2 separate regions of the Homo sapiens genome follow, and region 1 is linked to region 2. The links come from fine-mapping of genetic effects on gene expression. A gene starts in region 2. The other region holds a variant in brackets. All regions are shown on one strand. Distances are between the middles of the regions.

Region 1 (8,336 bases), 24 kb before region 2:
ACCGGAAACTGCGCTCTAGGCGTTCGCCCCCCGCGGTCCGCTTCCGGGTTTGCACGAAATTGCGCGCGCATCCTAGAGGCCGGACTGGCTGGGACCAGGGCGGGCCGGGACAAAGCCTGGGCCGGGCCTGCGCTTCCGTTCGCTTGACTGGCTGCGCTTGTTTTCAGGGTTTTGGTCTGAAAACGGATCTTACCTGCGCAGAGCAAAATCGGTTGTAGATTATATCCACGAAAATTCCTTCTATTAAAATGAATTTCAAGTCCCACCTACCCTGGAAGCAGAAAGAGAGAGAAGAGAGAGAGTAAAGAGAAAGAGAAAAGAAAGAGAAGTTGAAAAAGAGAAAGAAAACCAAGAAAGAAAGAGAAAAAAACCGAAAATAAATGGACAAGAAAGAAAAGTAAGGAGGGAAGGGAAGGGAGGAAGGGAAGGGAAGCTTTAGGAATTGAATTAACACACTTTGGAATTGTCTGTGAAGGGGATGATGCAAGCTAAAATGTGAAATGCAAAACCCTGCCAGGGTAGAATGTTCTATTTCATGCCAGTGCCCATAGAAGATAAATACTTTTCATTTATCTTCCCCATTCACTCTAGACGGTGAAGGTCAACCCTGTGCTCAATTCCAGAGACTTTCCTAGGGACATCGTGTTGGGCATGGAGGACTAAGGCCAGTGTGAAGATAAGTCACCGATTCTTTAAAAAAAAAAAGCCAGTAACTTATAAAAATAGCCATAAACGACGTAGTTTTTTGTTGTTGTTGTTGTTTTGAGACAGCGTCTCCCTCTGTCCCCCAGGCGGGAGTACAGTGGCAGGCACTCAGCTCACTGTAACCTCCGCCTCCTGGGTTCAAGTGATTCTCTTGCCCCAGCCTCCAGAGTAGCCACCACGCCCGGTCCAACTTAGTTTTTTAATACTTTTTAAAATTTTAAGACAGGGTCTCTGCCACCGAGGCTGAAATGCAGTGGCGCAATCATAGCTCACTGCAACCTTGACTTCCTGGGGTCCTGGGCAGGTGACCCCCTGTCTCAGCCTGCCGAGTAGCTGTGAGTAAAGGCCTGTGCCTCTCCACTGTGCTAATTTTCTACTGTTTGTTGCTTTGTTTTTAATAGAGATGTAGTCTGGTTTTGTTGCCCAGGCTGGTCTCCAGCTTCTAGCCTCAAGCAGTCTTCCCATCTGCTCCTACCAAAGTGCTCGGATTATAGGCATGAATCACCTTGCATGGGAGATAAGGACCCCCACATCAAGCCCTCAGGTTATTTTTGAAACACAAATACATAAGGCCCACAAGCAGGCCCATTGGCTGCAGACAGTGGGGTCACCTGAAGAACTTTTCTTTGATCTGAGTACCAACTTCTCACCTAGGTCACTGGGATCCTGGACTACGGCACTGCTCCAGGCAGGCCTGGTTATCCTGCTTGAGGCAGCAATCCTCTTGAGCCTAGTGAAATGCAACTGGCTGTACCTCAATGATGTTGCCCTGAGATTCTGCCAGTCGAGGTATTACTTCAATCTCCTGAGACCAGCCTCTACCTCCAGATCCAGGGAGGTCAGTGCACATGTAAATGGACTAGCTTTATTAAAGGGGATATCTGGGCCAGGCGTGGTGGCTCACGCCTGTAATCCCAATACTTTGGGAGGCCGAGGAGGGCAGATCACCTGAGGTCGGGAATTAGAGACCAGCCTGGTTAACATGGTGAAACGAAGTCTCTACTAAAAATACAAAAAAAAAAAAAAAAAAAATTAGCCAGGCATGGTGGCACACGCCTGTAGTCCCAGCTACTCGAGAGGCTGAGACACAAGAATTGCTTGAATCTGGGAGGTGGAGGTGCAGTAAGCCAAGATTGCGCCACTGCACTCCAGCCTGGGAGACAGAGCGAGACTCCGTCTCAAAAAATATAAAAATAAAAGGGATATCTGGATTGGCGGAGAGACTGCAGGACAGCATTCAAGTGGGGTTGAATTGGCCCAGTTGCATCTGACTTCTCACTTGTAGTTCCCAAGAATGAATATAGAATGTGCTGGAAAAGCAACATCCTGAGAGGAAGGGACCGGTGAGAAAAGGACAGGATGTGTTCCAGATCCCCAGAACAGGATCCCCTTTGTTGCTTTAGGCCAACGTGCCATGCATCCCTGGAGCATGAAACCCAGGATGGGCCGCCTTCCAGCCTCCCACAGCTGTGATGCAAGTTGAACACATACAGAGAGACTGCATCTGCACTGGGTGGTTTTCCTGAGCCTTGGGGAGCAGAATGCATGAATCCCAGGTATCTGCCGATCTGTATGTAACAAATTCACTTCATGTAACTTACTGTGTGTCCGTGAGATTATCTCTCACTCAACTCAGACACATTGGCAACCAGTGTGCAGTGAACCTGCTTCACAAGCAAGGATGTGGAGAAACTATTTTCGTACATTTTGTGGGAATCTGAAATACTGCGGTCAGTATGGAAAGCAGTATCATGGGAAACTTCCTCAACTCAAGATCACCTACCAATCCTTACAGAATCAGAATCATCATACAAACTGGTGAAAGCATAGTTTCCCCTAGAGGTTGGGATGAGGGCAAGAATGTCCCCTCTTATCACTACTATTCCACACAATATGAAAGGTTCCAGCCAGTGAAATAAAGGAAAAAGAAATAAAAGTGACAGGCTGGGTGTGGTGTCTGAGGCCTGTAATCACAGTGCTTTGGGAGGCTGAGGAAGGAGGGTGGCCTGAGGACAGGACAAAAAAAATAGTGTACCAACAGAAAATATGTTGGTTGTGCAGGCTAATACCTTTCCCAAAGGAAGGTAGCTACATCCCTATGACCTGTGTTACTGGATATATCAAAAGGGAGTTTGCAAATGTGGTCTAGATAAGGATCTTTAGATAGACATCCTGAATTATATGGTCAAAGTGATAGAATCACAAGGTTCAATATCAGAAGGGTGCAGGTGGATGCGAAGGGACAGAGACAGTGGTGATGTGTTGAAAATAGAGGGATAAAGAGATTTTTTTTCTCACCTTTAAAGATGGAGGAAGTGGACCATGAGTCAAAGGATGTAAGTGGCCTCTGGAACCTACAAAGGGTAAGGAAACAAATTCTCCCCTGGAGATTAATGAAGAATCACAGAACTATGGACCCATATTAGATATGTGACTTACAGAATTATAAAAGAATAAATTTTTCTTGTTTTAAGCCAATCACTGTGTATAGCAATAGGAAACTGATGAAATGATTTTATGTAGAAAATTCCAAAAAAATCTACAAAAATCTCTAGAACAAGAAAAATGTAAAGGTAGCAAAGTATAAGGTCAACCTACAAAAATATCGTATATTTCATCAGCCAGGCATGGTGGCTCGTGCCTGTAATCCCAGCACTTTGGGAGGCCAAGGCAGGCAGATCACTCAAGCTCAGGAGTTTGAGACCAGGCTGGGTAACATGGTGAAACCCCATCTCTACAAAACACAAAAATTTAACAGGCCATGGTGGCACATGCCTGCAGTGCCAGCTACTGGGGAAGCTGAGGTGGGAGGATGACTTAAGCCTGCAGGACACAGGTTGCAGTAGCTGAGATTGCTCCACTGCACTCCAGCCAGGATGACAGAGTAAGGCCCTGTCTCAAAATAATAATAATAATAATCTTGTATATTTCTATACACTAGCAATTTGCACATGAAACCTGATATTAAAAATAAAATACTATGTATGATTGCTCCATTAAGAAAAAGGTCAAAGAGGCCGGGTGCAGTGGCTTACACCTGTAATCCCAGCACTTTGGGAGGCCAAGGCAGGTGGACTACGAGGTCAGGAGATCGAGACTATCCTGGCTAACACGGTGAAACCCCATCTCTACTAAGAAAATACAAAAAAATTAGCCAGGTGTGGTGGCGGGTGCCTGTAGTCCCAGCTACTGGGGAGGCCGAGGCAGGAGAATGGCGTGAACTCAGGAGGCGGAGCTTGCAGTGAGCTGAGATCGCGCCACTGCACTCCAGCCTGGGCGACAGAGCAAGACTCCGTCTCAAAAAAAAAAAAAAAAAAAGGGGGGGGGCAAAGAAATACATGTGAAACAAAACATTCATAGAACTGTTATGTTACAACTACCAAATGCTGATAAAAGAAATCAAAGACAGCAAATAGAGACATATACCATATACATTTATTGGAAGACTCCATGTAAAGCAATATGAATTATACAAATCTGACACATAGGGTTAATACCTTTCCTAATTAAGGCATTCTGCAGATACTAACAAGGTTAGCAGTTATGTAGAAAGACAAAAAACCCAAACACCTAAAATAGCTAAAACATCTGACCAACAACAACAAAAGATTGGTATCACTTCATGTGATTTCAAGTCTTCTAATACAATAAAAGTATTTTTTCCCTTTCTCATATTTACAGTAAACCTAGTTTGTATTTGTCATTGTCTCGAAGCAAGAATCTGTCCCAGAAAAAAAAAAAAGAAAGAAAGAAAATTTCCATTCAAAACTAACAGGATTTAGGCCAGGCATGGTGGCTCACACCTGTAATCCCAGCCCTTTGGGAGGCTGAGGCGGGCAGATCAAATGAGGACAGCAGTTCGAGACCAGCCTGGCCAACTTGGTGAAACCCTCTCTCTACTAAAAATACAGAAATTAGCCAAGGATGGTGGCAGGCACCAGTAATCCCAGCTACTCAGGAGGCTGAGGCAGGAGACTAGCTTAAACCTGGGAGGCAGAGGTTGCAGTGAGCCGAGATTGCGCCACTGTACTCCAGCCTGGGCAACAGAGTGAGACTCTGTCTCAGAAAAGAAAAAAAAAAAAAAAACTAACAGGATTTATACTATTGGTTTTCCACAGAATTCTCCCAGTTGCAGAGTTTCCCAAACACTATTTATTAGTGTGGCTTTGCAGGGTGCAGTGGCTCACACCTGTAATCCCACCAGTTTGGGAGGCAGAGGAAGGAGGATGACTTGAGCCCAGGAGTTCCAGGCTGCAGTGAGCTATGATTGCCACTGCACTCCAACCTGGCTAACAGAGCAAGACCCTGTCTCTCAAAAAATATATATATATATACAGCTTCCACTCTGCCCATCTGAGCTCTTACCTGTGTTCACACCTTTGATCCATTCCCTCCCATCTGGATTTTTTTGCTATTTTCCCTTCACTCTCCAGAGTCCAGGGCTCTCTCCTTTGCTCCCACATAGAGATAATACTCAGGTCAGGAAGACAGATTCCTGTTTATAAAAAAAGAGAACCAAGG[T/G]GTACTGTGGCACCTTTAAAACTCAAGCCCTGGGCTGGGTGCAGTGGCCCAGGCCTGTAATCCCAGCACTTTGGGATGCCGAGGCAGGCAGATCACTTGAGGTCAGGAGTTCGAGACCAGCCTGGCCAACGTGGCAATATGCTGTCTCTACTAAAAATATAAAAATTAGCCAGGTTTGGTGGTGGACGCCTGTAATCCCAGCTCCCTGGGAGTCTGAGGCAGGAGAATCACTTGAACCCGGGAGGTGGCGGTTGCAATGAGCTGAGATAGCACCACTGCACTCTAGCCTGGGTGACAGAGCGAGGCTCCGTCAAAGTGAAAGAAAAGAAAGAGAGAGAGAAAGGGAGGAAGGAAAGAGAGAAAGAGAAAGAAAGTCAGTCCATGGTTTCCAAAACATACTTCTGTTTCCATTAATTTATTAGGAATGCTCTTCCATCTGGCTGTTGATCTGTGTCCTGTGTAACATCCTTTATAACAAATGGTACACCTCAGTAAATTGTTTCTCCAAGTTGTGTAAATCACTCTAGCAATAGCAAATTCTGGGGGCAGTTTTGTGCAACTGAGCCCTCAGCCTCCTGTGAGATCTAATGCTAACTCCCTATAAATGGTGTCAAATTGAGTTCAATTAGAGAACACCCAGTTTTTATCTGATGAAAAATAGCTTGTTGGTGGGAAGTAATCCCCACACATTTTGATGACCGGAGATGAGGCATTCTGTGTTGAGCATTCACTATTGTGTTGATTGTGAGTAGAAAAAACACTTTGGTTTTTCCTCCTATCTTATACACTCACACACCCTACCCCATCCCAGAAGTGAAGATAGTGACCCATACCTGAATGAGTCAAGTCACTGCCTGCCGTCTGGCAGAATAAGGACAGCAAATGGAAGCTAACCTCTGATACCAAGAATTAGGAAATGCACATGCCTTATAGACAGTTTTCCAATTCTCATCTTCATCTGTATATTTTAAACAAATGTGATGTTTATTATAGAGAAATTAATCATAATATCCAATCAATTCATCATTCATCTGGATTGAGTGTCCCCCTCTTTCCTCATTACTGTGTGTTTCTCTACCTACCTCTCATTCTCACCTTCTTTTCCTAGCTTTTTTTTTCTCTTTATTTTTCCCCTAGGATTCTCCTCATTTCAAGCCCTTCTTCCTTCTCCTGCTCTTCCCTCTATTCCTTCTCTTCCACTTGTTCTGCTCCTTTCTCACTTCTTTCACCTCTTATTCTTCTTTCTGCCCAATATTTGTCTCCAATTTTCATATAGTTCTGCCTCTTTCTTCCCCCCGTCTCTGCTGCCCCCTAGCTTCCCCTGTTAAATCCCCTCTTCCCTGCTATATCCACCTGTCCCCTCTCTGGCATCCCCAGATCCCAGTTCTCCCCAGGCTGTGGTTCTCCCTGTGCTCTCCTTATCACTGGCTGCCCCTCTTGCTCTCCCAGCACCATGCTGCTCTGTCTGCCCTGGCTCCAAATCCCTCCTTCTCTCCCCAACTCTCCATCTGAGGAGCCTCCCCTTTTCTGCCCCTCTCCCTATCTTGCTGAACTTTATCTCTCTAGAAACCCAGTTTTTCTCTAAATTTCTCTAGTTGCTTTTCTCCCCCTGCTCCTTTCTCAGCATCTTCATGCACTGTCTCTGCAAATCCCTCATCCACCATCTACTTTGCCATCTGTTTTGTTTTGTTTTTTGTTTTTTGAGATGGAGTTTTGCTCGTCGCCCAGGCTGGAGTGCAATGGTGCGATCTTGGCTCACCGCAACCTCCGCCTCCCGGGTAAAAGCGATTCTCCTGCCTCAGTCTCCAGAGTAGCTGGGATTACAGGCATTCGCCACCATGCCTGGCTAATTTTGTATTTTTTAGAGACAGGGTTTCTCCATGTTGGTCAGGCTGGTCTCAAAACTCCTGACCTCAGGTGATCTGCCCGCCTCAGCCTCCCAAAGTGCTGGAATTACAGGCGTGAGCCATCGCACCCAGCTGCCGTCTGTTTATGGGTCTCCTTCATTCTTCTTTCCCATTTCACCATTTTTCTATTTCCTCTCCTCCACACATTCATAGGGAGGGGACTGCAGTCAGATCCCCACCTCAAGAGCCCATTTCCTGTGGGATGGAATTTGGGACAAGAGAAACCTTAACGTCCTGAGATAGAAGTCACGTCCCCACACTCGATATCAGGAGAAGGGGAGGCCTGGGGAGCAGAAGGGCCCCCGATCAAGGAGGAAAAAGGCAGGAGAAAGTCAGGAGAGGGGCAGGGTCTGCAGGATCCCAGGACCAGGAAGAGTTCACGGCCTCCCTGGGACTGGGGCTGCGTCGCTGCGCTCCAGGAGCTGACGAGGGAGCGGAGCAGATGGGAAGCTCCCAGGGCGGGAATCAACCTTGCGGTGAGGACTTTAAAAAAGGTGCGGGCCAGTGCAGGGGACACTGAAGGATTTGAGGCAGGAAAACTCCGCGATAAGAGCTGTCTATATGGCCCTGTGGCAGAAGCACGGGGGACACGACCCCATGGAACTGTGTCCATTAAACCTCTTTGTCTTCATAAATTACCCAGTCTCGGGTATTTCTTTATTAGCAGCGTGAGAACAGACTAATACAGTAAATTGGTAATGGTATAGAGTGGGGTGCTGCTATAAGGATACCTCAAAATGTGGAAGCAAATTTTGAACTGGGTAACAGGCAAAGGCTGGAACAGTTTGGAGGGCTCAAAAGAAGACAGGAAGACGTGGGAAAGTTTGGAGCTTCCTAGAAAATGGTTGTTGAATGGTTCTGACCAAAAAGTCCAGGCTGAAGGTGGTCTCAGATGGAGATGAGGAACTTTATTGGAACTGGAGCAGAGGTGAGCTGCAGGGGCGGAGCCCTCATGGAGAACCTCTGCTAGAGCAGTGCAGAAGTAAAATGTGGGGTTGGAGCCCCCACACAGACTACTCACTACTCGCCTAGTGCAGCCGTGAGAAAAGGGCCACCCTCCTATAGACCCCAGAATGGTAGATTCACCGACAGCTTGCACCATGTGCCTGGAAAAGTAGCAGACACAACACCAGCCTGTGAAAGCAGCCAGGAGAGGAGCTGTACCCTGCAAAGTCACAGGGGCAGACATGGGTTCCCTGCAAG
Region 2 (8,336 bases):
GATGAATCTCAAAGGGGCCAGAATTCTGAAGAAAGCAATTATTTTAAGTCCAGAAAGTATTATGGAGCTTATTGTTTCTGAAAAATACAGCATTATAAAGCATTATGGAGGTTTTCATTTCTGAGTCAACAGGGTTTCAATCTCAGTCAAGCAATACAGTGACTCCTAAGATGCTAAGAGGCACACGACAAAATGCAAAAATACACCAGGGCAGATCTTGACTTCTGAAGGGACATTATCCTCACCCAGAAAGACCAGGTTCCTGTAGTTCTCCACCATCACTTCCCTGTATAAAGTCCTCTGAGCAGGGTCCAGACATTTCCACTCCTCCTGAGGGAATTCTATGGCCACGTCCCTGAATGCCAAGTGTCCCTAAAATGAAAAACACATTTCACCAACAGGATATCACACAAAATGAGGAGACAGTTGTAAGGACTGACTTGATTGAAGTGGATGTTCTGACAAATCCACGTTAAGGTATTTTTTTAGCTAGTTATATGTTTCTAATTGTGTTTTAATATACTTCTCCATTAGAAGTTATGACATTCTTTTTTTTTTTTTTTTTTTTTTTTTGAGACGGAGTCTCGCTCTGTCGCCCAAGCTGGAGTGCAGTGGCGCGATCCTGGCTCACTGCAACCTCCGCCTCCCAGGTTCACGCCATTCTCCTGCCTCAGCCTCCCGAGTAGCTGGGACTACAGGCGCCCGCCACCACGCCCAGCTAATTTTTTTTTTTTTTTGTATTGTTAGTAGAGATGCGGTTTCACCATGTTACACAGGATGGTCTCGATCTCCTGACTTCGTGATCCGCCCACCTCGGCCTCCCAAAGTGCTGGGATTACAGGCATGAGCCACTGCATGCCCAACCTGATATTCTTTAAATTAGTATAGATTTCTAGGCCGGGCGCGGTGGCTCACACCTGTAATCCCAGCACTTTGGGAGGCCAAGGCGGGTGGATCATGAGGTCACGAGATCGAGACCATCCTGGCTAACATGGTGAAGCCCTGTCTCTACTAAAAATACAAAAAAATTAGCCAGGCGTAGTGGCGGGCGCCTGTAGTCCCAGTTACTCGTGAGGCTGAGGCAGGAGAATGGCGTGAACCTGGGAGGCGGAGCTTGCAGTGAGCCGAGATGGTGCCACTGCACTCCAGCCTGGGCAACTGAGCGAGACTCTGTCTCCAAAAAAAAAAAAAATTAGTAGAGATTTCTAATTTTGTGGACAACATAAGAAATACAAAAAATTAACCCACAGTTATTTCTATAGAAGCGTCAGATACAATATATATAATTTTTTTTTAGATGGAGTCTCACTTTATTGCCCAGGCTGGAGTGCAGTGGCACAATCTTGGCTCACTGCAACATCCGCCTCCCAGGTTCAAGTGATTCTTCTGCCTCAGCCTCCCGAGTAGCTGGGACTACAGGCACCCACCACTGTGCCCAGCTAATTTTTCTATTTTTAGTAGAGACAGGTTTTCACTATGTTGGTCAGGCTGGTCTTGAACTCCTGACCTCAGCAATCCTCCCGCCTCGGCCTCCCAAAGTGCTGGGATTACAGGCGTAAGCTACCTCACCCAGCCAGGATGAAGCTTTTGAACACCTCCCATGTGACAGGCACTTTCTAAATGTTGTACATGTACTAACGGCTATAACAACAAAAGCCCATAAAAGAACAATCTGTTCCCATCCTATTGAAGAGACAACTCTTTCTCAGACATTCTAAGAAACTTGCCCCAGGTGTGAAGGCTAAAAATGGCAGAGTAAGCGCCAGATCCCAGGAGTCTGGGCATTAGAATCAAACTTTAAGAATTAGGCCAGGCGTGGTGGCTCATGCCTGCAATCCCAGCACTTTGGGAGGCCAAGGCAGGTGGATCATTTGAGGTCAGGAGTTGAAGACCAGCCTAGCAAACATGGTGAAACCCCATCTCTACCGAAAATAAAAAAATTAGCCAGGCGTACTGGTGGGCACCTGTAATCCCAGCTACTTGGGAGGCCGAGGCAGGACAATCACTTGAACCCGGGAGGCAGAGTTTGCAGTGACCTGAGATGGTGCCACTGCACTCCAGCCTGGGTGACAAAGCGAGACTCCAGCCTGGGTGACAAAGAGAGACTCCATCTCAGAAAAAGAAAAAAAAAAACATCAAACAATAACAGATCAGCATCAAAAGTAAATTGACAGACAATGACCTAACTGAGTATAGTTAAAATAAGTTCCGGGATTAAAATCAAGAAACTGTCGCACATGTATCCCCATAACAGGTTACTATCCTTACAGCCATAGACTCACTATCATAACAGTGTAGAACAATTTTAAGGTCATGAAAATATATAAGATGTAATTTCAACTGTTAAAAGATATAAGACGTATATAAACTGATGATGCGCCTTTGATAAAAACAATAGACTTGCTCATCTGTGCACTCATCCACACACATCACATGTACACACTTATTCATATACATATATACATTCACACACATATACTCTAGTAAACATATATGTGACAACTGAAAGAGTTGTCTGTCAATAACCTCTTTTTTAGATATTTGTCTTTGTTCGTTTTTTAATGTGTCCAGGTTGCAGTGCAGTGGCTTATTCATGGCACACTACAGCCTTGAATTCCTGGCCTCAAATGACACCCTCTCCGAGTAACTCGAATGACAAGCGTGCACCACTGTGCCTGGCTGTCGTTGTTTTTGCAAATGTGCATTTCAGCATGTTTGCAACAATAAAAATGTATAAACTGTGCTCAATTCAGTTTATAAACATTATTTCAAACTATTTCAAAAAGTCAGACCATGTAAAAACATAGAAACGAGAATTCCAATCTCTATTAAATACCCGTACTGAAACATATGTTTCAAAAATTGAGATGGGGGTCTCACTATGTTGTCCAGAGTGGTCTCAAACTCCTGTGCTCAAGGAATTCTCCAGCCTGGGCCTCCGGAGAAGATGGAATTCCAGCCCCGGCCCATAAATATTAGGTTGGTGCAAAAGTGATCGCGGTTTGCCATTACTTTTGCACTAACCTAATTTTGTCCACTAAATATTTATTTAGGTGTTAGCAAAAGCCCAATGGAGGCTGAAACATCACAATCAGCAGTAAACATCAGATCGATTTCCTCTCATTTAAGGCACAGAAAAGGGGGCAGGCCTGTGAAAAGAGGGCGAGGCTTGGGGGACCGGAAAGACGTGGATCCATCTCGCGGGTGAGAACTTTACGCAGCGCGGGCCGTGTCTAGGGGTCACTGAAGGATTTGAAGCAGGCAAACTCCGCGACAGGAGCTGTCTACATGGCCCTGTGGTGAAAGACCGGGGACAGGACCAGCCTCCGAGCGATTTTAACACTCAGGGAAGCGACCGCCAGACTCTCATTAGAACGTCTGAGTTTAGTCGGGGTGGAGGGAGCGATGCGGGGATTTCAAGGTCTGTGTGACCCCTGAGATGCCGGGTACAGAAGCGCGAGGGGACTCAGCATCCCAGATTTAATCTAAACAAAGGGAAACTCACACGCCGCAGCATGACCGTCACTCCACGTAATCTGCTTCCGGGTCTCCAGGAAACTGCGCGCGCAGCTGAGAGGCGAGGCGAGGCCAGGCCCGGGTGGGATTGGGCGGAGCCTGCGCTTCCCTCCGCCTCGCTCCCAGCTCGTCTCGTTTTGGAGGCTAGACCTGCCGTGGAGACTGGAAGAACTCAGCTATCTGGAAATAGATTGTGTCCCGGCAGAGGGAAAGTTTGTTGATGATTAGATCCAGGAAAATTCCTGCTATTAAAATTAATTTTAAATCGGCTGTAGGGGCGCTCGCATGTGGTCCTAGCTACCCGGATGCTGAGGTGGGAGGATCGCTTGAGCCCATGAGGTGGAGGCTGCAGTGAGCCGAGGTCGTGCGCTGCACTCCCGCCTGGGCATGAGAGAGAAACCTTGCGCCTAATAAATACATAATCATAAATAACAAATTGGAAATAAATAATTAAAATAAATAAATATAAATGAATAATAAACACTAGTTTCCGGAATTTTAAAGTCCTTGAATTGTTTATGAAGGGGATGCAAATTAAAATATGAAATGCAAAACCCTGCCAGGGCGGAATGTGCAATTTCCTTTTTTTTTTTTTTTTTTTTTTGGAGACAGAGTTTCGTTCTTTTGCCCAGGCTGGAGTGAAGTGGCGCGATCTCGGCTCACTGCAACCTCCGCCGCCTGGGTTCAAGCGATTCTCCTGCCTCAGTCTCCCGAGTAGCTGGGATTACAGGCGCCCACCACCACACCGGGCTACTTTTTTGTACTTTTAATAGAGACAGGGTTTCTCCATGTTGGCCAGGCTGGTCTTGAACTCCTGACCTCGTGATCCGCCTGCCTTGGCCTCCCAAAATGTTGGGATTACAGGCGTGAGCCACCGCACCCGGCCAAGTTTTTTTTTTTTTTTCATATTTATATTAATCCTAGTGTATACCTGCCATTGTCTTATGGACATACTCAGGTCACAACTTTTTTTTTTTTTTTTTTTTTTTTTTTGAGATGGTCTCCCTCTGTCTTTCAGGCTGAAGTGCAGACAGCTCACTGACTGCAGCCTCGACCTCCTGGCATCAAGTGATCCTCCCATCTCAGCCTCCCAAGTAGCTGGGACTACAGGCACACGCCACAATGCCCAGTCCCATGTCACAAAATTTTGTCTCCAAACAGCACTCATTTATTTGTCCCCTAAAGTTTTCACCAGAGCAAAACAGGGAAGAAATGTATTAAACATAGAATTTGGAGGCAATGTAGGAAAAAAATGTAAAAATATATATACATACAAAAAATATAAAAATATACATGCTAGGTGTGAATTGTAACTAAGTTTCCAGTATGGGTAGTGGGTATCCCCGCCCCAGCCCTACCCTTTAGCAATCATGACACCCCAAGCCAGTCACCTATCCCAGTTCTCTGAAGCCACTTTTGGACCAGCTGGAAAAGTATACCCTGCTTTCCCCCACAGAGCCTCATTATATAATAAACACTCTCAAACCATATCAGTGTATGGGATCATCATTCTCAAGATCCAAGCCAAACCTTAGGGGGACTTCAAACAAGTTCCAGAAGAGTGGTCAAAAATTCAAATTACCAAAAGAGTTGTGAGGGTGACTATATGAAGTTTCTAGTTAATGTACCAAAACAAAATTCCCTTTCTGTGTGTGACTTAAAAAGAAGATGGGTGAACATTAATATTTTCAAATGATGTCACTGAACACTAGAAGTACAAAAAGAAATTGTGTTACAGTATTATTATTATTTTTTTTTTTTTGAGACGGAGCCTTGCTCTGTCACCAGGCTGGAGTGCAGTGGGGTGATCTCAGCTCACTGCAACCTCTGCCTCTTGGGTTCAAGCGATTCTCCTGCCTCAGCCTCCCAAGTAGCTGGGATTACAGGTGCACACCACCAGGCCCAGCTAATTTTTTTTTTTTGTATTTTTAGTAGAGACAAGGTTTCACCATGTTGACCAGGATGGCCTCAATCTCCTGACCTCGTGATCCACCCAATGCAGCCTCCCAAAGTGCTGAGATTACAGGCGTGAGCCACCAGGCCCGGCCATGTTACAGTATTTTTGCCCTCAACCCATACTTTATTTCCTAATATTTGTCATATTACTATATATTTTTGCTGCATGAAAATGAAGGTGCACACCATAGTTCTTATTTGGCACACAAGAAAGAGGCATGTAGAAACACAATACAGGGCATACTCTTTAACACTCACACACATTTGAGGGTGTACAAGGCTGAAATTGTACTATTAAAGTGATTTTGACTTTACCCACATAAACATCCTACACCAGAGTACAGAGAAACTAACTCAAGTACTAAGTGTAATTACTCAACATCATACTTACTTAAGTATATTGCACCCAGAAGCGTATGTTGTTTTATGTCTCACACACATACACACACACACACTTTTCTGGCTGCTTCAACCTTAAAATCATAATGGGTTATTATTCTCTACTATAAAGTATCCTCCTGAGGTAAGATTAAACAACGCTGGTAGAAAGGATGTAATTCATTCACACTAAGAAAAATTTAAACTAGGCCGGGCGCTGTGGCTCACACCTATAATCCCAGCACTTTGGGAGGCCAAGGCCAGTGGATCACTTGAGGTCAGGAGTTTGAAACCGGCCTGGCCAACGGAGGGAAACCCCGTCTCGACTAAAAATACAAAAATTAGCCGGGCAGTAGTGGCACATGCCTGTAATCCCAGCTACTCAGGAGGCTGAGGCAGGAGAATTGCTTGAATCCGGGAGACGGAGGTTGCAGTGAGCCAAGATCATGCCACTGCACTCCAGCCTGGGTAATACAGCGAGACTTCGTCTCAAAAAAAAAAGAAAAAACTAAAAAAAAACTTTAAACTTTATTACTTAAAACATGAGAAGTATGTACATTCTAAATCAAAGAGTTACAAATTACGGTGCCAGCAGTTAAATGTGAATCCTACTCAAGAATATGCTATACTGGTAGTTTTCATTAAATGCTCTATTCTGATATAACTGTTCTCTCTTTATAGATTATTTATATATGTTATTAACTTTACATTTGTAGGGTTTCCTTTCAGTGTGGATCAAGAGATGAGTGATGAGGCTTCAATGCAAACTAAATTCTTTGCCACATTTATGATATTTGTAAGGTTTTTCTCCTGAGTCCTCCAATGTTGTGCTAGGTGTGAATTCTAACTAAAGATTTTGCCACATTCATTCCATCTGTAAGGTACGCAGTGAATTCTCTCCAGCATGAATTTTCCGATGTCGTGAAAGGTGTGGATTTTGATTGAAGACCTTGCCACATGCATTACACTTGTAAGGTCTCTCTCCAGTATGAATTCTCTGATGGTTGGTTAGGTATAATTTGCGCCCAAAGACTTTGTCACATTCATTACATTTGTAAGGTTTCTCTCCAGTATGGATTAGAAGATGGGCCATAAGGCCCGGACGCTTGTGAAATGCTCTTCCACATTCGTTACATTTGTAGGGCTTCTCTGTACTATGAATTATTTGATGCCGTGCAAGGTATGAAAGCAGACTAAAGACCTTGCCACATTCATTACATTTGTAAGGTTTTTCCGCCGTGTGACTTCTCTGATGATTGGTTAGAGAAAATTTGTGCCTGAAGTTCTTGCCACACTCATTACATTTGTAAGGTTTCTCTCCAGTATGGATTACAAGATGGGTAGTAAGTCCCGAACACTCTCTAAAAGCTTTGCCACATTCGTTACATTTGTGAGGCTTCTCTCCAGTATGAATTCTTTGATGTCGTGCAAGGTTTGAATTGCGATTAAACACCTTGTCACATTCACTACATTTGTAAGGCTTCTGTCCAGTATGAATTCTCCAATGTTCTACAAGGTGTGAATTGCGACTGAAGACCTTGCCACATTCAGTACATTTGTAAGGTTTCTCTGCAGTATGGATTACTTGATGGTTAGTAAGGCTTGCACGGACTCTAAAAACTTCACCATCTTCACTACATTCATATTCATAAGATTTTCCTCTAATGTATGCTTTCTCTTCTTGTGGGAGTAATGGGAAATCAATAAGATCATTTCTATATTTATTAAAAATGTGTGTTGTGAAACTAGAAGAAATTTTTTGAAGTGGTGAAACTGAGGAACGATGGTTTGTAAACTTTTCAACTTGATTACTTCTGTAAATTTTCCTTCCGGCTTGAAACAGCTGCAATTCAGACAGATGTGCCTCAAGGGTTAATCCAAGTTGATTTTTAATAGGCTTGTTTTCTGCATTGCTTCCCAATACACAGCTCCTCCCTAGAAAAGAAGAAAGAGTAGAACATGAACCCATGATTCTGGCATGTTTACCGTCTGGTGGAGGGACCAGAATCAGCCTCACCCAACTCAGACACTGGAAGAAGTATCGGCATACTTTGCATGTCACATTGTGAGAGCTGAAAACACAAGGGGGTGACGTGATGCATTGGAGCAGTGGGGAATCTGCAGGACTCGGGAGGATTATGAGTGACTTTGAGAAAGATTAAGGGCAGAAAAATAGAACAGAAACTGAAAGCTTCTCAGAAAAAGCAGGGATGAGCCTCTTAGAGAAAATAAGACATTTAAGAGCAGTTGTATAGACATTAGTAATAGTATAATATACGCATAAAGCTAGGAGAGACACAATCCCAGGAGTGAGGTGTTCCCACACCCTTTACAACAGGCTAATTGGGAAAGGTCTCCCTGTCACACCTGTCACAATTCTTTTTTTTTTTTTTTTGAGACGGAGTCTCTCTCTGTTGCCCCAGGCTGGAGTGCAGTGGCACCACCTCAGCTCACTGCAACCTCCGCAAGCAATTCCCCTGCATCAG

The links. PIP is the estimated chance that this variant, and not a neighbour inherited with it, causes the effect.
Region 1: its variant is fine-mapped to the expression of ZNF880 in whole blood (TOPMed, PIP above 0.99).

What each region holds. Positions count from the first base shown.
Region 1 is chr19:52,389,523-52,397,858 of GRCh38, reverse strand. ZNF528-AS1 (ZNF528 antisense RNA 1) reads left to right here and starts at 102. Exons shown (of 7, transcript NR_125345.1): 1 at 102-397; 2 at 592-664; 3 at 1,107-1,249; 4 at 1,360-1,494; 5 at 2,109-2,261; 6 at 3,012-3,068. ZNF528 (zinc finger protein 528) reads right to left here and starts at 10. Exons shown (of 7, transcript NM_032423.3): 1 at 1-10. It also overlaps a transcript of ZNF880 not described here. RefSeq lists an enhancer at 1-698. The variant T/G (reference allele first, on the strand shown) is at 5,227.
Region 2 is chr19:52,365,147-52,373,482 of GRCh38, reverse strand. ZNF880 (zinc finger protein 880) reads right to left here and starts at 3,560. Exons shown (of 4, transcript NM_001145434.2): 1 at 3,506-3,560; 2 at 246-372. The coding sequence starts at 3,517. It overlaps ZNF610 (zinc finger protein 610), which reads right to left. Exons shown (of 6, transcript NM_001161425.2): 6 at 5,705-7,785. The coding sequence ends at 6,716. RefSeq lists enhancers at 3,119-3,258, 3,459-3,568, 3,579-3,878.